Linked DNA regions of Homo sapiens. The protein of the gene in region 1 interacts with the protein of each later gene in a pairwise test. Each region holds a gene or a part of one and is shown in the gene's direction. Other genes may lie near its edges. The genes, in order: HDAC7, REL, ACOT11 and GNG12.

Region 1 (7,071 bases):
CCCGTTCGCCTTGCCGACAGTGTCCTTGCTGCCCGCAATCACTCTGGGGCTGCCCGCCCCTGCCAGGGTGAGTGGCTGGGGTGCCCACCCCCACTCCAAGCCCCCCCAGCTTCTTTCACTCCCTTTTCTTGCTGCCTCACCCCATCATCTTCATTGTTCTCTGCTGGAATCTTCTTCCCCGTGACTTCTCCCGCCTCTCCCCCAGGCTGACAGTGACCGCAGGACCCATCCGACTCTGGGCCCTCGGGGGCCAATCCTGGGGAGCCCCCACACTCCCCTCTTCCTGCCCCATGGCTTGGAGCCCGAGGCTGGGGGCACCTTGCCCTCTCGCCTGCAGCCCATTCTCCTCCTGGACCCCTCAGGCTCTCATGCCCCGCTGCTGACTGGTGAGTCTGCTGCTTCTTCAGGGAAGGGGCTGGGTCCCTGCACCCTGCTAAGAGCCAAGCTTGGGATGGACCCATCCTTCCTCCCCATCTCTGTCCCCCTGTCCTGCGCATTGCCCTGCTGCACCCTGGCCCCCCACCCTATACCCTCGCTTCCTTCCATTGCTCCCTGTGGTTCCCTCCTTATTCCACCCCCCGATTCTTTCCAGTGCCCGGGCTTGGGCCCTTGCCCTTCCACTTTGCCCAGTCCTTAATGACCACCGAGCGGCTCTCTGGGTCAGGCCTCCACTGGCCACTGAGCCGGACTCGCTCAGAGCCCCTGCCCCCCAGTGCCACCGCTCCCCCACCGCCGGGCCCCATGCAGCCCCGCCTGGAGCAGCTCAAAACTCACGTCCAGGTGATCAAGGTGAGAGGAATTGGGCAGTGGAGGTATTGAGGGAGTGTTTAACTGGGGACTTAGGGGCCAAAAGAAGAGGGGTACTTAGAAAGGGCAGGGAACTGGAGGGCAAAAGAGGGGGATGTGGCTTCTTGGGGCCCAGAGCTGCATGGCAGCTGGAGTCCTAGCAAGATGACTGGCTGCCTGGCCCAGCCCACCACCTCCCACCCCATGCCCCTCGCTCCACCATGGCTTCTCAGCCAGGTTCTCCCCTCCCCAGAGGTCAGCCAAGCCGAGTGAGAAGCCCCGGCTGCGGCAGATACCCTCGGCTGAAGACCTGGAGACAGATGGCGGGGGACCGGGCCAGGTGGTGGACGATGGCCTGGAGCACAGGGAGCTGGGCCATGGGCAGCCTGAGGCCAGAGGCCCCGCTCCTCTCCAGCAGCACCCTCAGGTATGGCAGTCCCCACCTGCCCCTCAGAAAGTGTCCTCAGAAGACTCTGGGGCCTGGCATAAGATGGGGAAGGGAGGGAGATACGACATCAGTGCAACAGGCAGCTCTAGGACCCATGGTTGCCCTATAAGATCCTGGGTGCTGGATCCACACTAAGGTGTAGGCACACACACACATGCACACTCACACACCCATACACACACATACACACAACAGCTTGCCAGTCTCAGGTGAAGCATGTCCCTTTTCCAGGAAGGAGTCTGTCCTTTCCTGGAGCCACACATAGTCCTGCCCTGGTATGTCTCCCCTCTATCCAGAAAGGTGGCTAGGGCCAGAGGTGGGATGGAGCCAGGCTCCAGCGTGTCCAGCAGAATGCTCTCACTGTGGGAATCAAGACCCAGTGCATTAGCTTGCCGGAGCTGTTGGGATACAGGCTGGGCGCCTTAAACAGCAGGCATTTACCATCTCACAGTTCTGGAGGCTGGAAGTCAAAATCGAGGTGTTGGTGGAGTTGGTTCCTTCTGGGGGCTGTGAGTGTGAGGGCAGGGGCTGTTCCCGGTCTCTCTCCTTGGCTTGTGGATGGTCATCTTCTTCCTGTGGCTTCATGTGGTTTCCCTCTGTGAATGCCTGTTCAGATTTCCTCTTCCTATAAGGACAATAGTCATACTGGGTTAAGGCCCACCCTAACGACCTCATTTTAATTTGATTACTTCTGTTTGTAAAGACCCTATCTCTGAATAAGGTCATGTTTAGAGGTACTGGGGGTTGGGACTTCAACATATAAATTTGAGGGTGGGGAACATAATTTACTCCATAACACATGATGACAGGCCACACACATGTTCTTGAACAGTTACATAGTCCAGGACAGGAGGACATCCTGGTCAGCACAAGATCCAGCGCCCCTCCCCTGGTTCCTGGCTTTGGAGCCCCAAGGGCCCGGGGAGCTGGTGGAATGGGTGGTCAGTCTGGGGTGCAAACCTGTCAGGGGGCTGCAGGGGACAGGGGGCTTAGAGAGTCAAAGGCCAGAGCCCCACTGGACAGCAGGTCTAGGTTTATCCTGGAATCTCTCTAGGAAAGGGGCCTGCTTGGCAGTTCCCAAGACCTCAGGCAGAAGTAGAGGGAGCAGGACCCTGAAACACTGGAGACCAAGGCCCCATCTTTCCCCTAGGTGTTGCTCTGGGAACAGCAGCGACTGGCTGGGCGGCTCCCCCGGGGCAGCACCGGGGACACTGTGCTGCTTCCTCTGGCCCAGGGTGGGCACCGGCCTCTGTCCCGGGCTCAGTCTTCCCCAGCCGCACCTGCCTCACTGTCAGCCCCAGAGCCTGCCAGCCAGGCCCGAGTCCTCTCCAGCTCAGAGACCCCTGCCAGGACCCTGCCCTTCACCACAGGTGAGACCGGGAGGAGGGTGGCGGGTGGAGGGAGGGGCTCGGCTGCACGAGTCCATGTGGGTGTCTTGGTGTCACTTGGGACATTTTTAGAGGCCACAGAGTGCTTAGCCTTGTTAGGCCCACGTAGTACCCATGGAGCACATGGAACAGCTGGTTATTGCATTTGGCCGATGAGGACCAAGGCTCACGAAATCTAAGGTGACAAGCCTGTGGTCAAATAGCAAGTGGTAGTCAAGCCAGGATAAGAATTCCAGTCTCCTGCCAATGCACTCAGCCCTTTTAAAAAATGATATTTATTACTGTTGCTCTGCTTGTAAAAAGAGCTCAGAAGTATTTTAGACATTTTGAAGAGTACAGAAAAACCTAAGAAGAAAAGAAAAATCACCAACCAGTATCCCACCACCCAGAAGTAAACCCTCTGAAATTCTGCTGTATTTCAGTCCAGGCTTTGTTCTGGCCATATGTACATGTACAGATGCCATGAACACATGAACTACGTTTTGTATCCTGCTTTACTTAGTTAACATATTATGAATCCTTCTTGGCATAATTAGTCTTTAAAACTGAGAGTCTCATAGTATTTCATTAATGTATTTCATTTTTACTGAGGGATCCCTTATCAGTTAGACATTTAGATTATAGCTTATTTGAATTTCCTTATGCATAAATCTTTCCTCATGCTTGGGATTATTTCCCAAGGTTCACTCTAAAGAAGTAGCATTCCTGGGTCACATGGTGTGAGCATTTTGAGAGTCGTTGGTGTCCTAGACGCACAGAAATTGACCCTCCCACCCGCAATGAGCAGGACCCTCCTCTGAAGACTTCCCACGGGTCAGACTGAAATAGTCACTTCTCCAAAGCTGGATTTGTCTATCACATGGTCCAGTGTCATCGTGGGCTTCTTAGCTCCCGGTTTGGGGGTTTCCTAGGAATTCTTTTCCCTCCTGCTGCCCCTTGGTAGCCTCTCTGGGTTCATGACACGTGTGTGAGATGCTGTACGTTAGGCCTCATGCTTTGCTCTGAGCACTTGAGGGCCTGGTGCTGGGCCCTCGAGTCCTGGGCCACCCAGCAGTCGTGTCCGCATGTGGGAAGGCCGTGGCTCTGTGGCAGCCATGTTGGCTGGAGCTGTGTTGATGTGTTGGCTGCTGCCACCTGGGGAAGTGTCTGGGCGTGTGTGGACAGGTGTGAGGGGCTGGGGCTGGGGTAGGGGCAGGATGAAATGCAGGCCTGTGTGGGTGTGAGGGGTGTGTACCCGCCCGGCTCCATGTGGGTGCCTGCTGTGGCGGTGCTGGCGTGTTCTCTGCAGCCAAGGCCATGGGGCGTGAGGACTCCCTGGGTCCCCGCTCTGACCCTTGCTCCTGCAGGGCTGATCTATGACTCGGTCATGCTGAAGCACCAGTGCTCCTGCGGTGACAACAGCAGGCACCCGGAGCACGCCGGCCGCATCCAGAGCATCTGGTCCCGGCTGCAGGAGCGGGGGCTCCGGAGCCAGTGTGAGGTGAGGAGGCGCGGGTGGGGCCCGAGGAATGGGTGGAGGGAGGAGTCATGGGAGGGGAGGGGTGGGGGGCCCTGGGGCCCATGAGAGATGAGGGGCACATGGGGTGGTGGTGATGGGAGGGAAGGGGCGAGCATGAGCTCAGAGCTCTGTGGTCCCCTTTTCAGTGTCTCCGAGGCCGGAAGGCCTCCCTGGAAGAGCTGCAGTCGGTCCACTCTGAGCGGCACGTGCTCCTCTACGGCACCAACCCGCTCAGCCGCCTCAAACTGGACAACGGGAAGCTGGCAGGTAATGGCCTAGTGGCCCTGTCTCCCCATGCCAGCTTACCTCACCCAGCTCCCATGCACTCCTGTCTCGGCTCTGCCCGCCCAGCCAGCCTCCTCCTGCACCCTGGACGTCCCTACTCCAGCTTGCTGCCAAGCCCCTCCTCAGCCCACCTCCACCTCTCCCTTCCATATTTCTCTCCCCCAATACTCACCCGGCCCTGCTCTCTGGGCTCCCTGCTCCCTGTTGGGCCAAAGGCTGAGAGTATTCACGCTGACGTGGGCTGGGCCTCTCCCCGCAGGGCTCCTGGCACAGCGGATGTTTGTGATGCTGCCCTGTGGTGGGGTTGGGGTAAGTGTGCCCAGGGGTCTCAGGGGGGCGTTGCCAGGGCTCTCAGCTCTCCTCCCTGTGGTTCTCCCAGGCCCAGCCCCTGCAGAACCTCTGCTTGTTGTGGTTCTGCCAGACAGGGTGAGCCAGGGACTTCCTGAGGTGCCCCCTGCAGCAGGAAGCTCCTTTTGGACAGGCGTGTCTCGGACCCACAGTCTCCCCCGAATGCGGAGTCCAGCCTAAGCCTTCCCCTAGAAGGTGTCTGGTAGATGTTGAGTGAGGTTTCAGGAGCAGGGCCAAGGCTGGGGCTTAGGATCATCTCTCCCTTCAAAGACCCCCATGACTGGGCATTGGCCGCCAGGCTGCTCTGTCTGCTCTTAAGTGGCAAGTTGGGGTACCTCAGCCTGGTCCCCAGACCTTGGGCTGCCTGGTGTGACATCACGGTGGTGCTTCCGGTGTCCTTGGCGATCCCAGCACTCCCCACTCCGGGACATAGCCCCAAACTCCGCTCGCGAGCTTTGCTTCCTAAGTCCTCACCCCTTTGTGAAGGGAGCTTCCCGCTCCCTCCGGCTCAGCTCTCCTCGCCTAACACTATCCCTGCAGTAGTTTCTCAAGCAAGGTGTGTAGAGGCAGGGGATGGAGGCCTCATTCCGGAGGGAAAGTGGGAGCTGTAGCTGGTGGGGGACTTTGGGAGCCAGTCAGTGCCCTATTCACAACTTCCCATTTCTTGCCACTTTCTGGTTTTTCCAACTGTTGTTGCTTCTGTTTTCTCCTCCCTCCTCTCCCTCTCTGTCTTTCTCTCTCTCTCTCTTTCTCCAGCCTCTTGCGACTCTCTCTGCCTTCCTCGCCTCTCTTGGTCTGCCTCGCCCTCCCCATCTCCCCATCATGCCCCCCGGCCCCTCCCTAGCCTTGAGGCCCAGGGACTGGGTTTGGGGGGCCTCCCAGCCTGGGCTAGGGGCCCTGAGTGGAAGACAGTGGTGCAGACGGCCCCTCCAGCTCCGACCGTCCCGCAGGGCCTGAGCAGAGTCAGCTGGGGCTTAAAACCCCCTCCCGGCCCAAACCCCAAGTCCCGCCCAGGTAACGCCATGCCCCCTCCCCTGACCGGGGAGGCAGGCGTGATGCTGCCAGCAGAGTGCTGGCCAGATAATGGGCTGGTGCTGGGACTTAAGCTGGGAAAAAGTCATGCTGGGATTGGGGGACACAGGAGGCCTTGCCTTTGGGCGGTGGGGCACTGGGGAGGCAGCACTGTCTGCCCAGCTCCCTGCCCCTGGGGTCCTGGCCGTGGGGTGGGGACCACCCCCTTGGGCCCTGGCTCCTGTGTGAAGCCTTGGATGATGCGGGCCCTGACTCTGGCTCCCGCAGGTGGACACTGACACCATCTGGAATGAGCTTCATTCCTCCAATGCAGCCCGCTGGGCCGCTGGCAGTGTCACTGACCTCGCCTTCAAAGTGGCTTCTCGTGAGCTAAAGGTAGGAGGTTTGGGTTGAAGGTGGACACACCACAAAGGAGGAAGCAGAGTGGGGTAGTGGGGAATCCAGGCCCAGAACCCCAGGCATCGCATTCCTCTTAGAGATTGCTACAGGGTTTTGGAGGGGAAATTGAGGGCTCTGGGAACCAGGTTGAGATTGGAACTCTTGGGGTACGTTCATGCAGCTGTGGGTCAGAGCTGTCTGTTGATTGACAAGCATTCTTTCTTTTTCCAGAATGGTTTCGCTGTGGTGCGGCCCCCAGGACACCATGCAGATCATTCAACAGCCATGTAAGGCTAAGGGAAGACCTGGGTGGGATGAGGTGGGGGGCAAGCCCCCAGGAACTTCCTTCAGGGACATTCTCTCTTCTTCCCTGAGCTTTCTCAGGCTGGGCCAACCCAGGGGCCTGGGGAGGTGAGGGCATGTGGAGAGAATGGGCTGGCAGGACCTGTCTCTCCTTCCAGGGGCTTCTGCTTCTTCAACTCAGTGGCCATCGCCTGCCGGCAGCTGCAACAGCAGAGCAAGGCCAGCAAGATCCTCATTGTAGACTGGGTAGGTGCCTGTCCGTAGCACCCTCCAATTCGAGAGCCCTGGGGGAAAAGCCCTGAGCCTGATGTTAGAGATGCGGCTTCATGTCTTAGTTCTGCAGTAGCCTCTCTGAGCCTCAGTTTCCCCTTGTGTAAAATTTGGGTGAAGATAACACCCACATCACAGTTGGGAGGCCTAGAGGGGATGGCGTGTGGGAACGCATTCAGCCATCGCAAACCCCTGCAACGAGTAGGAGCTGTCATTTGAGTGTTGTCTTTTGACCTCTATTGGCTTCTTTTGGCAGATCTAGTAATTTCTGCATTTCCTGTACAGGTAGTGATGATAAGAATAATAGCAGATAACATCAGTACACCACTAATCAC
Region 2 (7,000 bases), on another chromosome or scaffold:
CGCCACCACACCCGACTCATTTTGTATTTTTAGTAGAGATGGGGTTTCACCATGTTGGCCAGGCTGGTCTCAAACTCCTGACCTCAGGTGATTCACCCACCTCAGCCTCCCAAAGTGCTGGGATTGCAGGTATGAGCCACTGCGCCTGGCCAATTTTTCTGTTTTTTTATGGAGACAGGGTTTTGTCATGTTGCTTAGGTTGGCCTCAAACTCCTGCGCTCAAGTGATCCACCTGCCTCAGCCTCCCAAAGTGCTGAGATTACTTTAAACAATTTTTTACTAAGAGAAAAATATCCTTTTCTACTGATACTACTGATTTGGGACATATTCTATAATACTTATTAAATCCAACTTACATACATATTTATTGAAAACATTTTCTATATGTGAATAAAATATTTGTTTATTAAAGGAGAGGATACAATCCTATAATTTTTTATCTGCTTTCCTGGTTTCTTTCTAATCAGATACTTACGGCAATAAAGCAAAGAAACAAAAGACAACTCTGCTTTTCCAGAAACTGTGCCAGGATCACGGTAAGAATAGTTTGGATCGATTCATATTTAAATAGGTTTTGTTTTATTTACTTTATTCAGTTTTTCAAATTTTATTATTTTTGTTTTGTTTTGTTGTTTGTTTGTTTTTTGAGATAGCATCTCTCTCTGTCACCCAGGCTGGAGTGCAGTAGGGCAATCTCAACTCACTGCAACCTCTGCCCCCCAGGTTCAACAATTCTCCTGCCTCAGCCTCCCGGGTAGCTGAGATTACAGGCATGTGCCACCACACCCGGCTAATTTTTGTATTTTTAGTAGAAACAGGGTTTCGCCATGTTGACCAGGATGGTCTTGAACTCCTGACATCAGGTGATCCACCCACCTTGGCCTCCCAAAGTGCTGGGATTACAGGTGGGAGCCACCACGCCCGGCCAGTTTTTCAGATTTTAACTGATAATGTTATTTTTCAAATGACATTTAATAATGGAAAAACTTTATCCTAACAGTTAATTTTCCTGAGAGACCAAGACCTGGTCTCCTCGGTTCAATTGGAGAAGGAAGATACTTCAAAAAAGGTATTTTATTTCCTATAGCATATTTCTTGTGATCAGAAAGACCAGTACTTTGCACAATATATTGGAATTCTATTTTTAGGAATGAATAACTGCTTCTTTGAAAATTTTCTCTCCAGATTTTTCATGCTTTCAGTATAGAATGAATTAAGCATGGCTTCTGAAGGTTGTGTTAGAAACTGATTATGTTTTTGGGATTTATTGTTCAAGAAATTACATGTTGTTCATATGGTAGCAATTTTATTAATTACATTGCGTTATGAAAAAATGTTACTGATTTGGTTAGTTACCTGTTTTTATAAATAACATTTTACTGGAACACGGCCATGAATATTTGATTAAATATTATCTCTAAACTGCTTTTTTTTTTTAACACTATGGCAACAGGGTTGAATAGTTCCAACAGAGGCTGTATATAGCTCACAAAGCCTAAAATATTTACAATCTGACTTTTTACAGAAAAAAAAATTGCCAATCCCTAGTTTAGGTAATTCAACCGAGGGCTAATTAGAAGAAGTCTTTTTTCCCCCACGTACATTCTTAAATCATTGCTTTTTCCTGGTTTAGTTTGTAAAGCATTTGTATAATATGTAAATAGATACAGAATTAATTTTTTCTGTAATTTTTTTCTGACTGTGAATTTTATAGTCTCTTAGGGTTCTGTTGTAATATATCTTAAAAGTTATGTGTATTTTCTTATCCCTAATGAGTGTTGTCTCCATCCTTCCATTTTCTCCTAAAAGTGAAGAGTAAGAGATGATTTTGGCTATTTGGAATCCCATTAATTGTAATTCTAATATTTATCTTTTAGTTTTCAAAAATACCTTTATAGAGCCTCAGAAACTAGATTTTCATATTTAATTGAAGTGAAATTACATATGCCAAAGTAACTTGCCAAAATCATTTTACCTGTATTTGTAAAATGGTATATACGTTACAGAATTTCATTTTGGATTCGTGTAATAATTTTAGTGCTTTTTACATTTTTTTATTTGAAATGTTACATTGGTTTCCTTGACATTTTTCTTTATATATATTTGTGTGCTTATGCAATTTTAATTTAGAAATGCTTTTTATAATTTTGTTCATTTTAATTTCGTAAAATAAATTTTTCCTCCCACAGAACCAAACTTGTTTTCTCATGATGCAGTTGTGAGAGAAATGCCTACAGGGGTTTCAAGTCAAGCAGAATCCTACTATCCCTCACCTGGGCCCATCTCAAGTGGATTGTCACATCATGCCTCAATGGCACCTCTGCCTTCTTCAAGCTGGTCATCAGTGGCCCACCCCACCCCACGCTCAGGCAATACAAACCCACTGAGTAGTTTTTCAACAAGGACACTTCCTTCTAATTCGCAAGGTATCCCACCATTCCTGAGAATACCTGTTGGGAATGATTTAAATGCTTCTAATGCTTGCATTTACAACAATGCCGATGACATAGTCGGAATGGAAGCGTCATCCATGCCATCAGCAGATTTATATGGTATTTCTGATCCCAACATGCTGTCTAATTGTTCTGTGAATATGATGACAACCAGCAGTGACAGCATGGGAGAGACTGATAATCCAAGACTTCTGAGCATGAATCTTGAAAACCCCTCATGTAATTCAGTGTTAGACCCAAGAGACTTGAGACAGCTCCATCAGATGTCCTCTTCCAGTATGTCAGCAGGCGCCAATTCCAATACTACTGTTTTTGTTTCACAATCAGATGCATTTGAGGGATCTGACTTCAGTTGTGCAGATAACAGCATGATAAATGAGTCGGGACCATCAAACAGTACTAATCCAAACAGTCATGGTTTTGTTCAAGATAGTCAGTATTCAGGTATTGGCAGTATGCAAAATGAGCAATTGAGTGACTCCTTTCCATATGAATTTTTTCAAGTATAACTTGCAAGATTTAAATCCTTTTAAATCTTGATACCACCTATATAGATGCAGCATTTTGTATTTGTCTAACTGGGGATATAATACTATATTTATACTGTATATATAATACTGACTGAGAATATAATACTGTATTTGAGAATATAAAAAACTTTTTTCAGGGAAGAAGCATACAACTTTGGACATAGCGAATACAAAATTGGAAGCTGTCATAAAAAGACAACTCAGAGGCCAGGCGCAGGGGCTCACACCTGTAATCCTAGCACTTTGGGAGGCCAAGGCGGGTGGATCACTTGAGACCAGGAATTCGAGACCAGCCTGGCCAACATGGTGAAACCCCGTCTCTACTAAAAATACAAAAATTAGCTGAGCATGGTGGTACGTGCCTGTACTGTCAGCTACTTGGGAGGCTGAGGCACAATAATTGTTTGAACCCAGGAAGCAGAGGTTGCAGTGAGCTGAGATCACACCACCGCACTCCAGCCTGGGTGACAGAGTGAGACTCTGTCTCAAAAAAAAAAAAACAAAAAAAACACACTTTTTTATATTTCTTTTTATAATGTTTTAATGTATTCTTAAATTTCAAGCAAATTTAAGATAAAACTTGTAATGGCTATGCCATTGAAAAACTTAATTTTTTATTTTTGAGGCCCATGGGCCAAGGTAACCCCTAAGGGGTTTTCTTAGGCTTCTTGGAGCTTAGATTTGTATGTATATCAAAATGTCTTTAAAATGTTAAGTTGGGCAGAAGGCAGTTGAAGTGAGCTTTCAAGGTATGGGAGGTTTTCTACATTTTATACTATTTCAATCTATGCCTTTAAAGTTGCTTATGATTTTAGCTGTACACTCATTTTTTAAGGGGAAGAAGTTTCCTTGGACCATTCGCCTTTCTTAGATGTCCTCACTCCCTGTGATCTCATAAAACTGCCTATTTGACATCTCTATCTAGAAATCTAATTAAAGCTCACACTCAGCATATCCAAAACTGAATTCTTGGTCTTCCCTCCCAAACTTGCTTCTCCTTCAGTCTTCTCCAACTCAGTAAATGGCAATGCCATACTTCTGGTTGCTCAGGCCAAAAACCCTGAAGTCATCCTTGATTCTTCTTTTAGCACCCATATCCAATCCATTAGCAAATCTGGTAGACCCTACCTTCACAATATATCTAAAGCTGACCACCTCTTTTGACCTCTACTATTAACGCCCTATTCCAAGCCACCATCATCTCTTCCCTGGATTGAAGCTGTCATCTACAAAAATTCTTCTTATATCCTTGCATTCCTACAGTCTGTTCCCCATAAAGTAGCCAGAATGATTATTTTTAAAACAAGTCAACTCATACCATTCATCTGCTCAAAACCATTCATTGGCTTCTCATCTCACTCAGAGCAGTCAAAGTCCTTAAAAGTTGCAGGCCTAGACTCCCTGTCCTACCTCAGGTACCACCATATCCCACCTCCTCATGCAGCTCCAGGCACCTTGGCCTCAGTGCTCCTCAAAGCATCAAGTATGCACTTGCCTTGGACAGTCTGTACTTGGTATTCCCTCTGCCTTGAATGTTGTTCTCCCAGAAAAATGCATAGTTCACTCTTACATCCTTCAGGTGTCACTCCACTGTTACCTGAGCAGGTCGTCCTTGAATATATACATCAGCATTCCCTTTCCCCCCTGCTTTATGTATGTCCATAGCACTCACCACGATCTGACTTTACTAAGTATTTATTCATTTACTGTTTGTTTTCCCATACCGAAATATAAACTTTCTAAGGACAGAAATTTTTGTGCTTTATTGTTGAATCTCCAATTTGTAGAAAAATGCCTACCTTATATTAAACACTCAGTAAATGTTTATTGAACATTAAAAGTATTACTAATAGAACTTTGGTTTTTGAAAGAAATAATAACTTTAATTATAAGACGTATATGATTTTTGCAGTTTTACTTAGTGTGACATTGGGTTTATGAGAATCGTGTACATTCAAGTCCAGGAATAATAATGGTCATCCAAATTGTTTGAAAGGAAAATAATCCCAGTGGCAAAATGATGGTAGAATTTGGGTAATCTTTTTTTTCCTTTTATGAAAAGAGATTTTATTGAAGGTAAAACATTAGAGGTTCATTGAGAATCTCTAAATCCATGTTTTGACATTGTCAAGCTCATTGCAACTTCCAGATTGAGTAACACTTATAACACATTTCCTTTTCAAAGTGCAAGATTTTTAAAAGAGACTTGTCACATATTCATTTGGCTGGTTTCAAATGGTGAGCTGAATGCTGGGTAATCTCTACTAGCTCCTTAATCAGATTTAAAATTCTCAGTGTTTCCTAGTTGTTTCTGCATACTTTATGTGAGTTGTTATAGCTGTAACATTACACTTTATTTGCTGTTTGTGTTTCGTGACTTTTGGTAATTCTGGCATTTAGAAACCTTTCACTTTGCTTCAAAACGTAGTTATATTTTGGAGTTTTCATTTGATATATAATTATTTATTTTGCCCTTTTATTTCCCAAAGACATTGTAAGGGTTAATTAGATCATTATATTTTATTATTACAGATTAAAGTTGGGCAGTAATCTTAATTATGATGGAATTATCATTATGCTAAGTAATTAACTTTACCTAGTTTGTTTTACAACTAGAACCTGCCCTAAATGTTGAATATCTTCCTAGCAAGAAACAGTCTGTCATTTTACTTACACGATGTCTAACCAAACCATAACTTTACATAAACTAGTCGTTTCGGTCAAATAGAAAAATGTGTGAATGCCATAAAAACAAAAATTCTCAGTTAAATGATACTGGGAAATAGGGAAGACAGCAAAGTGAGACTTGGGCTCAGGATGGTTCAGGAAGAAAAAAAAAGAAAGACCCCTGAGTACCATTAATATTCCTCAGAAATTATTATTTCAAAAGGAAATATTTCTGTATTATAAATTTTTCATGAGCAGCCATTATGAAATCTCACAAGAATCATAGAATTCAATAAAAAAGGTAGAAAGTAATTTTTTTACTTAAAAATATAAATTAAAATAAATTTTTAAAATCATAAGCACATAAATAGAACTTACCAGGGAGAAAGAAAAACCTGAAGGCACAATTTCTTTTCTGTTCAAAATGTGAACCCAGGATGTCTCTAGATGATGATGGATGATAGGTGGGGAGATTTTTTTTTTTTTTAATACAGAATCTCATAGTTTTGGATTAATTAGCACCAATCAGTTTAAACACTGACTGTTAGAATAGCTGCATGGGTTTTTTTCTTTAAACTAATTAAGCGTTGGCTACTTAGTATAAGTAAGTATAAGCCGAATTAAGGTTCTGCTACATCTGTGTTTAGAATATTTTTTTAAAACTAAATAAGTGTTGGCTAGTTTTGCGGTGTAAGCAGAATTAAGGTTCTGCTACCTCTGTGTGTAGAATATTCCCAATGGATTTTTCATTTTTCAGGTGCTATTTTTTGACCCTGTATAGACTTTAATTTAAAATGAATTTGGTAACGTTTCTCCTCTGTCTCTACATATATTCATGCTTTCACCTGCTCTTTTAACACCTGCTTTTAGTATCTGAGGCACTTTTTCTGAACTCTACTTGTGCACTGGATCCCTCCTCCTTTCTCTGCCAGGCTGTGTTTACTTTATCCTTACATCACCACTTAGTGATTCCTTTCTTTGTATAAACATGGTAAATGTCTTCATTAGCCTAAAAGGAAAGACCAAATAAAACCTTTCCTACCACTTGGATGCATTTGCATCCTGACTTCTGAAATGCCTCCAGCCTCCATTTTCTCCCTTCCCAGTTATTCCTTAGCCCAGCCATCTCTGTCTTTAGCTCCTACAATTTTCTTAGGATATTCTGGGAAAGATGAGCGGAGACTGCCCGCCTTGTCAAATCTAGTGTCTTTTTTTCAGTCCTCACACTGCTTGACCTATGTATAACCTCCTATACTTCCCTCTTTGCATACTCCTCTGGGTTTTCTGTGGTAGTCAAGATTCCTCCCTGAGATTTATTTCCCATGAGTCTTGACCCCTCCCCTCAGTTGG
Region 3 (7,000 bases), on another chromosome or scaffold:
AGCCTGGATTTTAGTCCAGATTCCAGGAATCTGGAATCCTTGGAAAAATCATTGCCCAGTTCTAGGCCTTGGTTTCCCCATCTATATAATGTCCACACTCTGCAATCATAGAACTTCCAAAGTGAGGGGGAATGGTGGTGGCTGCTATTTTATAATTAATAAGGATGGTAAGTGGCTGAGCGCAGTGGCTCACGCCTGTAATCCCAGCACTTTGGGAGGCCGAGGCAGGAAGATCACTTACGGCTCGGAGTTCAAGACTATCCTGGCCAACATGGCGAAACCCCGTCTCTATTAAATAAACAAAAAATGAGCCAGGCATGGTGCACACACCTGTAATCCCAGCTACTCAGGAGGCTGAGGCACGAGAATCCCTTGAATCCAAGAGGCGGAGGTTGCAGTGAGCCAAGATTGTACCACTGTACTCCAGCCTGGGCGACAGAATGAGACTGTCTCAAAAAATAAATAAAGGAATAAAGAAATAAAGACAGTAAGATACATGAATAGCAGCAACTGAGCTGTTTGAAGCAAGGCTGCCACAGCACTTGTAAATATGCACATAATGAACATTTTCTAATTAGGCCGTCCACCTCCACCTCCTGGTTTATGTCCTTACATCCCTTTGCAGTTTTTGATGGCATATTTATACCTTTGCTTTCTTGTTGGTTGCCTCCTCCCCTGACTGTTAGCCCATGAGGCATAGACTGGACAGGTTTATTCACTCTCGCATCCTCACAGGGCCGGACACACACAAGAGGTGCTCTGTAAACAATGGTGGAGGGAGCGGTCCCAGGTGTCCTGTCACTGGGACTCTGATCCACGTTGCTGGAAGAACTGCAGGAGTGTATGTGAGTGTGTGTGTGCATACATGTGTGTGTATGTGTGTGCATACATGTGTGTGTATGTGTGTGCATACGTGTGTGTGTGTGCATGCATGTGTGTGGGCGCATGTGTGCATGTGTGTGTGTGAGTGTGTGTGTTGGGGAGGAGGCATGGCCCTTGGGAAGGTCTGTCCAGGTTGGAAGCCACACTCCCTCCCCTCAGCATGGAGGTGGGCGTGTGCGTGGAGGCCTATCGCCAGGAGGCTGAGACCCACCGGCGCCACATCAACAGTGCCTTTATGACCTTTGTGGTCCTGGACGCAGATGACCAGCCCCAGTTGCTGCCCTGGATTCGGCCCCAGCCCGGCGTAAGTGGGACCAGCGCCCTGCCCCACCAGCAGCTCCCCTCCCCTCCCTCTCTGCCCTGGCATGGTGGAGACTGCCAGCCCCCTACAGACCTAGAGGCGTGAGGGGCCCACCCTACCCCCGTGCTGGGGCACAGCCAGCTGAGTGTCCTGGCTGTGAGCCCTGGGATGCCCCTTGTGCAGGGCGGGCTTGTTCTGCCTGACAGAACTCGGAGTATGTGTGGGTCTGGCTCGGAGTTGGGGGTTAATGGGCTGTCATGAGCCTGCAGGGTTGGAAGAGTACTGGCTTTGGAGTCAGATGTGGGTTGGAACCTCGCCTCTACTACATTCAAGTGATGCCCCCTCGAGCTTTCAGTCTCCATTTGTAAAATGGGTGTATCTGCAGTCCCTACCTCACAGGACTGTGGGGCGATAGATGCAGTACTGACTCCATGCCTGGCTGCGCCCTGGGAGCGGTCAGGAGGATGGTGAAAGCAACGCAAGGGGCACGGGAAGACAGTCAGGAGCCTGGTGCAAGGTCCTCTCTTACAAAATGCTCCCTGTGCCTCCTGTGGGCCAGGCCTTGGAGAGGCCGCTCCCTCCCTTGGGGGAGGTCCCCTGGCCTTCCTGCTGGCCTTCCAGAGGGTAGCGTGGGCTGTGGAGTTGGGTGGAGCCTCGGGACTGGGAGCTGGGGGTCACAGCCATAGCCGCTTCCCAGGCATTTTCCTTGTACTTGGGGCTGGAGGACGTTAGATGTGGCGGTAAAGAGGGTGGGCTTGAGGCAGGCCATTGGGGTGCTGATCCTGGCCTCGGCCCTTACCCCTGTGGCCTTGGCAAGCCCTCACCCTTCCTTGTCTCAGGTTCCTCCTCTGTAGAATGGATACAGCACCAGCCCCAGCCTCAGAGGGTTGTTGTAAGGATTTGGTGCAATTCCACATGGAAAGCCCTTGAGAAGAGTGGCTGGTGTGTAGTGAGTGCTCAGTAAATGTGGACTCTCATTACCATTGTGAGTGGCCTGTAAGGATCCCCATTTTACAGAGGAGGAAACTGAGGTCTGGCCAGGGGAGGTGGTGTTCCCAGGTCACTCAGAGAGTTTGAGGGGAGCTGGGGCTACAGCTTAGTTTCCCACTTTGCTGGCCAGGATGTTTTGATTCCAGCTGCCCCAGCGACACCTGAACTCCACGTTAGGGCTGCAGGAACTCCTTGGGCCCTGGGGGATGGAGAGGGGGCAGGACGGAGGGTGGGGGTAGCTGGTTGCCTATCCCGACTTCCTCCCCAGGATGGTGAGCGGCGGTACCGAGAGGCCAGTGCCAGAAAGAAGATCCGCCTGGACAGGTGAGTAGGGGCTGAGTGGTGGGCAGAATGTGGATTCGGGGCTGTTCACGCTCCGCTGACCCCAGGGCACTCGCTTTTCTTCAGAGCTGCCTGTGCGTTGGGCCCTGGGCCGGGCCCTTTACATCCTCTCGTTTTGGTCTTATTACACAGCGGTCTTCTGGCCTGTTGTACACACGAGGACGCTGGGGACAGAGGGGTTAGGTGGCTTGCCCAGGGACACACAAATATCATCAGCAGAGTCAGAATTTGAAGCTGGCTGAGTCCAGCCGATTTTAAATCCTGTGTTCTTGCCATTGATTCTGATGCCCATTTGGCAGATGAAGAAACGTTCAGAGAGGAGATGCAGTTGTTCAAGAGGTAAAGCCACTTTGGGAGGCCGAGGCAGGCAGATCCCCTGAGTTCAGGAGTTTGAGACTAGCCTGGCCAACATGGCAAAACCCCGTCTCTACTAAAAATACAAAAATTAGCTGGGCGTGGTGGCTCTCGCCTGTAGTCCCAGTGCACCTATAGTCAGGAGGCTGAGGCTGAGGCAAGAGAATCGCTTGAACCGGGAGTTGCAGGTTGTAGCAAGCCGAGATTGTGCCATTGCACTCCAGCCTGGGCAACAGAGCAAGACTCTGTCTCAAAATAAATAAATAAATAAAAATGAAGCCAGGTGTGTCTGACTCTGCTGTGAAAGCATTTATGGACTTTAGAGGCTGTAAGCACAGCAGGGATCACAAGCTGTTGTTAGTAAGAAAGTGTGCATCTATGGCATTTACTGAGCATTTACCGTGTGCCAAGCACTGTTATTGTGATGTCCCCATGAGGCAGGGGTGACTGCTGATCCCATTTCACAGATGAGGACACAGCAGCACCAGGGTGAGGTCACTCAGCAGGGGTATGGGGTGTGGGAATCGAGCCTTAGACGCCATACCCTTCCTTGCTGGCTCGCTCCCACCTCTGAGCTTTCCCTGGTGTAGGGGCCGAGCTGGTGTGCCCTCAGCTGCTGTGTCCTGTGTGACCATCCAGCCTCCCTACCCAGACAGGAGTCTCCCATTCTGCCGGGCTCAGCACAGGGCCTAGCACAGAGTAGGCCTGCAGTAGAGTCTGTGGAAAGTGCTGAACTTCCAGGGGACCAAGGTTGTCATCTTCTCTCCTTCCCAGGAAGTACATCGTGTCCTGTAAGCAGACAGAGGTGCCCCTCTCCGTCCCCTGGGACCCTAGCAACCAGGTAAGGCTCTCTGCTCCGAGAGGACAGTCTTCAGACCCACCGGGCCCCCACCCTTCCCTGCTTGTCAGAACGGGTTTGGAGGAAGGCCGGGGAGAGCAGGATATGAATGACACGCCTCATGATTGCTACCATTAGCAAAGAGCTGGCCTGCGTCCCTGTTTGGTAGGTGGAAGCGGAGACCCTGAGAGGCAGAGTAGCTTGTCTAGGGTCACACAGTGGGTCTAGCCAAGCCCAAGCCTGGACCTCCCTTCTCAACGCCCAGGACTCTTTCCACAGCACCTGCCGCACCACCCACCCACCGCCCAACCCATTCCTGGCCCAGGTTCCTCTCTGGCACACCCTTGGCCTTGGCTCAGGGGCCCTGAAGGAAGGGGGTGGGGTAGTGGTAGCACCTGTGTACTCTTTCAGGTGTACCTGAGCTACAATAACGTCTCCTCCTTGAAGATGCTTGTGGCCAAGGACAACTGGGTGCTGTCCTCGGAGATCAGTCAGGTAGCTGACCCCACCCACCCAATTTTCCTTTCTCATCTGAGCCAGAGGTGGCTAATGGCAAGCAACAAGAACTCTCCCACACCACTTATGTCAAAAAAAGATCTCTTCAAAGAATTGGGTGAGATCAAGAAACCAGTCCAGTTATGGAAACGTACCCACCCCTGCAGGGCCTGGAGTCGAGAACCCCTAGATTCTTCTCTCCTGCCTGCCCCCCTTCCTGTTCTCAACCACTCAGGTCTGCTGCTGTCTGACCAGGCACTTCCTCCCTCTCTGTTCTTCTGCAGTGATCACTGCAGGGATCGGGGCAGCCAGCAGGCACGCGCTTACAGGAGACCTAAGCTCTGCCAGCTGCCTGTTCCCCTAGACAAGCCACTTCCTGCCTGTGCCACTGGGGCTTGGATGGGCACCTGGCTGACAGGAACCACCACATGTTGCCTTAGTCACTGTTGTCTTAAGCCACCTTCCTGTCCATTTGTGCTGAATTCATAATTCGTGGGGATGCAGCTGAGACTCAGAGAGGTTGAGCTGCGTGTTCACATTCACACAGCAAGTCAGCTGTAGCCCTGAGCTTCCAGTCTCAGCCTCCAGCATCCCCATCAGTCCACTCCACCACCCAGCAAATGAGGCTGCCCTCTATCCCATGCAGGTCCGCCTGTACACTCTGGAGGATGACAAGTTCCTCTCCTTCCACATGGAGATGGTGGTGCATGTGGATGCAGCCCAGGCCTTCCTGCTGCTCTCGGACCTGCGTCAGAGGCCAGAGTGGGACAAGCACTACCGGTGAGGGGCCAGGGTGAGGGCAGGGCAGTGTCCCTTCTCCGGCCTGATGAGGGAGAGAGTGTCTCCTTCTGCGGGTCATCCTCCATGATGCTCTGCCCTGCTGGGGCTGGGGGTGGGTTGGAGTTCCATGCTGGGTGGGGGTTCAGGGTCATGGGTATTTTGAGCCCTTAGGGAAGAGACTGAGCACGGAATTAGAGCTGGAGGCTTGAGTTGAAGTCCTGCTTCTGTCCCAACCAGCTGTGTGACATTGGATAAGTCAAAGTCACTTCCTTTCTGGCCTCAGTTTCTCTCTTCTTAAAATGGATGCTTGGATGGCGGGTCATGGATTCACACTCAGAGATACTGATTTTCAAACCATGTGCTGTGGAGTTCTGTGTTCCCAAAGGGGCTTCCGGAACTGCTGGGGGTGGAGTTGGAAGGATGAAGGGTGATCGGGACATAGCATGGCCAGTTTGTTGAACTTACCAAGTTTGCTGATTTTCCTCACAAATATATTATTTTTGAATATAATGAATGATTATGAATAGAAATATGTTATTCCTTTACATACATTTGTTCCTCCAAATTTATTGATTGTTCACATGACTATCTTCTTCTCGAATTTAGTCAAGGAAGATAAATATGTTCTTAGGAAAATAGCAAAATTTGTGTTTTTCAAGTCCCCTTAAAGTCATTTTCTGTTCTGCCATCACCGGGGCTCGAGGGGGTTCTTTGATAATTGCTTGTTATGAGGAGCCTACATTCTGGAGAATTTCCGTAAGGAGGTTCTGTGTGTTTGGAAATTCAGTCCGCTGGTCACTTGGTGAATTGTATTTTGACAAACTGGCTTTCCCCTTCCCACCCCATCTATTTTCTCCAGAGCAGGCTTGTAGCTCTTTATACATGGGCTTCCTGCTGAAGGTGTCTTTGCAAAAAGGGCCATGTTGCCTTAAAAAGCCCTGGCCCAGCTGACTCAGGCCTGCTGGTTGTCCCCTTCCAGAAGGCAGAGAGGTGATTTGGTGGTGGATGTCGTGTAGGGGGAGGGCGGTTGTGCATGTGGTAGGTGGGCTTCTTGGAGGGAGGCTGGGGTGGGCCTTGAAGGCCAGACCAAATCTTGATACTTGATGGGATTTGTGGGGGAGTGGCCTGAGGGGAAAGAGAGCCCCTAGTTTCTTCCCCATACCCTGCCTACTGCTGAGTGCAGGCAGGGGAGTGGGGAGGAGGAGGTGGGTCTGGACATGGCCATGCCTGCCTCTGTGTGGGTGTCCTTGTGTGGGTGCACGTGTTGGTATGAACCTGTGTATGCCCATGCATGTATGTGTCAGGTGCCTGGGCCTGGGGATACATCTCTGCCACCTGATAGCCTGGACACACCCCAGCCCTGCTTCCTTATTAGCTCTGTGGCCGTGGGCAGGTTATCTTCCTCATCTATGAGATAGGAATACTAAAAGCGTCTACAGCATGGGGCTGTTATGGAGATTAAGTGACACATGTAAAGCATTTAGAACAGCACCTGGCACTCAGTGGGCGCTCAGTAAATATTAAGAACAACTGCTAAATCATCACACATCCTTGTGGTGTCTGCACCTGCGCAGACATGTATAGACACACGTGGGTCTCTGTGTACACTGATGTCTGTCCATGTGCCTGTGCACATATGACCACATGTGTGCATGTATGTGCACATCTTTGTTCCCATGTCTGTGTGTATGTGTTCATTTACTTGCATGCATGTCTACATGTGCCTGTGTGTGCACACGCACATGTGTGTCCATCTTGGCTGGGCTTTGCTGCCTTCCTGCTGGCCCTTGCTGAGCAGTACAGGGGGTGACATCCCATCACAGAAGCTGCTCAGGCACTGCAGTGTGGCAGGGCCCGGGCAGACCCGCTGCTTGCATGGGAGCTGGAAGCTTCCTGGGGCACTGAGATCCCGGCCTCCCCACAGGAGCGTGGAGCTAGTGCAGCAGGTAGACGAGGACGACGCCATCTACCACGTCACCAGCCCTGCCCTCGGAGGTCACACAAAGCCCCAGGACTTC
Region 4 (3,564 bases), on another chromosome or scaffold:
GCTCTCCTTGTCCCAGCTTTGTGATTGAGCCCTCTGTCTTGCTCTCTCTGCCTTCCCTGTGTCTTTCTTCTCTTACCAGAGCATCTGTTTGCAGAGGTAACATTACCTTCCCCAGCCACAGGTATGTGGAATACGGTGAGGAAAAAAAAAATTAAAAAAAAAATGCAAGCTGTCAGGATGCTTAAGCTCTTTTCAGACATCTGCAGTTTCATCCCTACCTTGTTCACATACCATCCAAGAGGCACATAGGCTACCCAAGAGAGCCTTGGATTCAGTGGTACACTCCTTGGGCCCAAGGGCTTTAGCAGCTGGATATGGGGTTCCTTGATTTTCCTCTGGGCCCAAATATAGCCCTCACACTCTTGGAATTTCCAGGTATGGGGGTAGCCCCAAAAGGAGGAATCTCCTATGGCCAATAAGGTATCTTGACTTTATCAAAGTAGAAGAGAGGGTCACTTCGGAGTCAAATCATACACTAGGCCTTTGATGCTTTAATTCTTCTTCAGTTCATTAAAAGTAACTACTAAGGAAAGGTTAAAAACTTCCCCTCAAAAAGGAATCAACCCCAGGAAGTAATTATTTACAACGATTTTCCCAAATTTTGTACAATCTGTCCTGGAAAGCAAACCCCTTTTAAAATCTAATGTCTGGGCTTTGAGTATTAGCTCATTTAGGGTGGACAAATGCATTACTGTTTTCAAACTGCTCACATTTATTCAGTATTTCTCCAAGTTGCTATCTACTCAGCCTTATGAATGCCCCTCGCTTTTCTAAGGCCATGTGAAAATCACGGCACTGCCCTTAGCCTTGTGTCATCTGCTTTTTCGTTCTGCGATATGCCCAGTTCCCAAATCAATTATAGGTACCTGTTTAGGAGAGAGGAAGATTTTACCTCTCAAAGGGTGAGATTTGAAATTTACACTAAAAAGACAACTTTACATTTAATGCTTCACTTAATGAGACATTCTTTTTTTTATAAGTCTATTTTTCTACTCAGTTTCAGAACACTAATCTGATTTTCACTCTGATTTTTAACGTTTCTTTAAATATTTATAATGTAGCTTCTTTCAAAATATTTTCATGAAAAATTACTTTTATTATACCATTATGTGCATGTTATTGGTAGCAGGCATAGTTTATTATTTAGTACTGAAACATGCTCTTTTACCTAACAGTAAACAAGTATGTTTTGATATATATCTGTTAATATGCTTATAGTGGTAAGAAATGGACTTGAGGTCCCAGGAGATTTCATTTTATTCACCCTGGTCAGATACAATAAAGGCTATGAGTATAAATACATAACTTCCTAACCAGGTGTAGGGCATGTTCATGAATATCAAATCTTTTGATGCTGGACCCAAGAGAGGAAAAGTTGTAGCTAAATGTTGATTTACTTATAACTAGACGTCTATGTGAGAAAATATATGTATACATATATATGATATGCAGAAGTCACTTTTTTTATCAGGCTTTATTCTCCTTACAAAGCCACAGTTTAACTGTCTGCAACAGTTGGTTTATGTTAATGATAGACAAATACCCAGTGTTTGTTACTTTTTCCAACTACCACTGTAATGATAATCTTTCTCACGTATATACATGCAACTTCTTGGCTTCATTTCCATGAAGCTGTTTCAATATATTCAGTATACTTTGTCCTTAATGCTGCTTCTGTTAACAGTGATCTCTTTCTTTTTTTCATTCTTATATCTTCATTAGTTCATCATAAATCTGTCCAGTTGAGGCCTCAGGACCACGGCATGATTTCATGACTCCGAAGTATTTTACAGAAACATTTTTTAAATAAGGGAAATATTTTATATACCAGATGGTTCACAAGTGATGGCTCATAGCTAGTTTTTTTTTTTCTTCTAAAAAATGTCAGGTTTTTAAAATCATTTACCTTATTAAAATGAAAAGTGCCATACTTAACTTTTAAAGGAAAGACCTGACTTGCTTTTTCTCTATTTAGACTGTTTTTGTACTTTACTAATCTTTAAACTATCAGGAAAAAAACCAAAACTTTATACCAATGATTTAGTAATTTTGAGGCATAGGGTAGCTTACGTAGTGGAGGATGTGCCAAATATTCTCTTCAAATGCCACCTTCTCAATTTATAACTAAAATAGTGTTATCTGACTAATTCCTCTGAATTTTGATGTAAGATCTATATAGGCCCCCAAAATGATCGTAGTACATGCCAGTCATTTCTCAGTGAAATAAATACAATACCAGAGTACATTATGGGTTTTATTGCTTTCTTTTATGGTAGACCTGTTAATGGGGAAAAAATACATCAAATCAAATAGAATCTTATATCTGTATGTTAAAATAGAGCACTTACCTGAAGTCAGTGGCCTGGATCATAGCCCTGGATCATTTCCCAGTCTGTCCTGTGCTGTGTGACCTTGGACAAGGCGCTTCATCTCTCTGGGCCTCTATTTCTCCATTTGTAAAACAAGTGGCTGCAGTAGATGATGGCTGAGAGCCCTTCCTGTTCCCAGATGCCTTGGTCCAAAGACCCCACCCCTCTGCTGGTCCTGCCAACGTGTTGGTGCTATAAGCTGCTTCAGATATAAAATTGGTTTATCTATAATGTTTGTTCATTTAATAGCTTCTAAAAGGCCTTTTTGTTATACAGTGCTTTTTTTCTAGTTTTATGGACTTGGTTACTGTAATAATGTCTTGTTTTTAGCCATGTAACTACAAACAGATATTCTCTTGATGTCTTAGTAAATTTGCATTTGATATATCATTGATGAGATTTTGTTGTTATGTAATATTCTTTGGCTACGCATCTGTCCAGCATCTTATTAACCATAATACTGTGATCATTATTTGGAAATATGTCCTATGGAAAGAATAAAAGCATGTACTTCACAGCTAGCATGTTCACAGATTTGAAAGAAGTTTCATTAAAAGCACCATTGCTTTCTGTACTGCGTCAGTGCCTCATTGTATCATCCTACTTGTGTTTTGCTCAATAAATGAATAAAAGACCATTTCTCTTCCCCTTTCCCTTCCTTCACTCAGTTAACATTTTCTGAGCACCTCCTGAGAGCAAGCTGCTGAGAGTCAGGCTCCCATGACACCCAAATGAATAAGACTTACACCAGCCCATGTCACAGTCTGAGCAAGGAGGATGGGAATGACAGATATGTAAACTAATCATCGTAGTATCATGTGGCAAGTGCTATAACTCAGGTGAACACAGAGTGCTGTGAGAGCCCAGAGGAAAGAGGGACTAGCTCCACATCAACAAAGACCTCTAAAAAGGCTTCCAAGGGTGGTGATGTTTGGGCTGAGTGAGAGAAGAACAGTATGCGTTGGAATGAGGTCCTGGGAGGAGATGAGAGGAGGAGAAAAGAGGACTGGAAGCCAGTGTGCAGAAGACCCCCGATCCCGCCCTCCTATCCTGCTTGCCTATCCTGAAACCAACAGGGGAGCTAGAGAGGCTGCTGAGGAGTGACGTAATGACTCTGACCTGTGGAGGGCTGTTTCCCATCCTGAGACTAGCTGAGGTAGTGGAAACTGATAACAAATGGAAAGGTCATTAGATG

The links.
Region 2: the proteins of HDAC7 (region 1) and REL interact in binary tests that used the Homo sapiens proteins (3 or more experiments, as listed by UniProt).
Region 3: the proteins of HDAC7 (region 1) and ACOT11 interact in binary tests that used the Homo sapiens proteins (3 or more experiments, as listed by UniProt).
Region 4: the proteins of HDAC7 (region 1) and GNG12 interact in binary tests that used the Homo sapiens proteins (3 or more experiments, as listed by UniProt).

Annotation. Positions count from the first base shown.
Region 1 is NC_000012.12:47,788,902-47,795,972, reverse strand, and holds part of HDAC7 (histone deacetylase 7), read left to right. Parts: coding exon 1-67; intron 68-205; coding exon 206-386; intron 387-592; coding exon 593-789; intron 790-1,039; coding exon 1,040-1,213; intron 1,214-2,384; coding exon 2,385-2,604; intron 2,605-3,303; coding exon of another isoform or gene 3,304-3,314; exon of another isoform or gene 3,315-3,968; coding exon 3,969-4,102; intron 4,103-4,266; coding exon 4,267-4,387; intron 4,388-4,664; coding exon 4,665-4,714; intron 4,715-6,052; coding exon 6,053-6,160; intron 6,161-6,394; coding exon 6,395-6,450; intron 6,451-6,624; coding exon 6,625-6,712; intron 6,713-7,071. UniProt on the Homo sapiens protein: Responsible for the deacetylation of lysine residues on the N-terminal part of the core histones (H2A, H2B, H3 and H4).
Region 2 is NC_000002.12:60,919,574-60,926,573, forward strand, and holds part of REL (proto-oncogene c-Rel), read left to right. Parts: intron 1-467; coding exon 468-536; intron 537-809; coding exon of another isoform or gene 810-905; intron 906-1,000; coding exon 1,001-1,069; intron 1,070-2,189; coding exon 2,190-2,962; 3' UTR 2,963-7,000. UniProt on the Homo sapiens protein: Proto-oncogene that may play a role in differentiation and lymphopoiesis.
Region 3 is NC_000001.11:54,600,228-54,607,227, forward strand, and holds part of ACOT11 (acyl-coenzyme A thioesterase 11), read left to right. Parts: intron 1-1,041; coding exon 1,042-1,186; intron 1,187-2,441; coding exon 2,442-2,497; intron 2,498-3,643; coding exon 3,644-3,710; intron 3,711-4,118; coding exon 4,119-4,202; intron 4,203-4,848; coding exon 4,849-4,982; intron 4,983-6,906; coding exon 6,907-7,000. UniProt on the Homo sapiens protein: Has an acyl-CoA thioesterase activity with a preference for the long chain fatty acyl-CoA thioesters hexadecanoyl-CoA/palmitoyl-CoA and tetradecanoyl-CoA/myristoyl-CoA which are the main substrates in the mitochondrial beta-oxidation pathway.
Region 4 is NC_000001.11:67,700,917-67,704,480, reverse strand, and holds the end of GNG12 (guanine nucleotide-binding protein G(I)/G(S)/G(O) subunit gamma-12), read left to right. Parts: 3' UTR 1-3,006; downstream 3,007-3,564. UniProt on the Homo sapiens protein: Guanine nucleotide-binding proteins (G proteins) are involved as a modulator or transducer in various transmembrane signaling systems.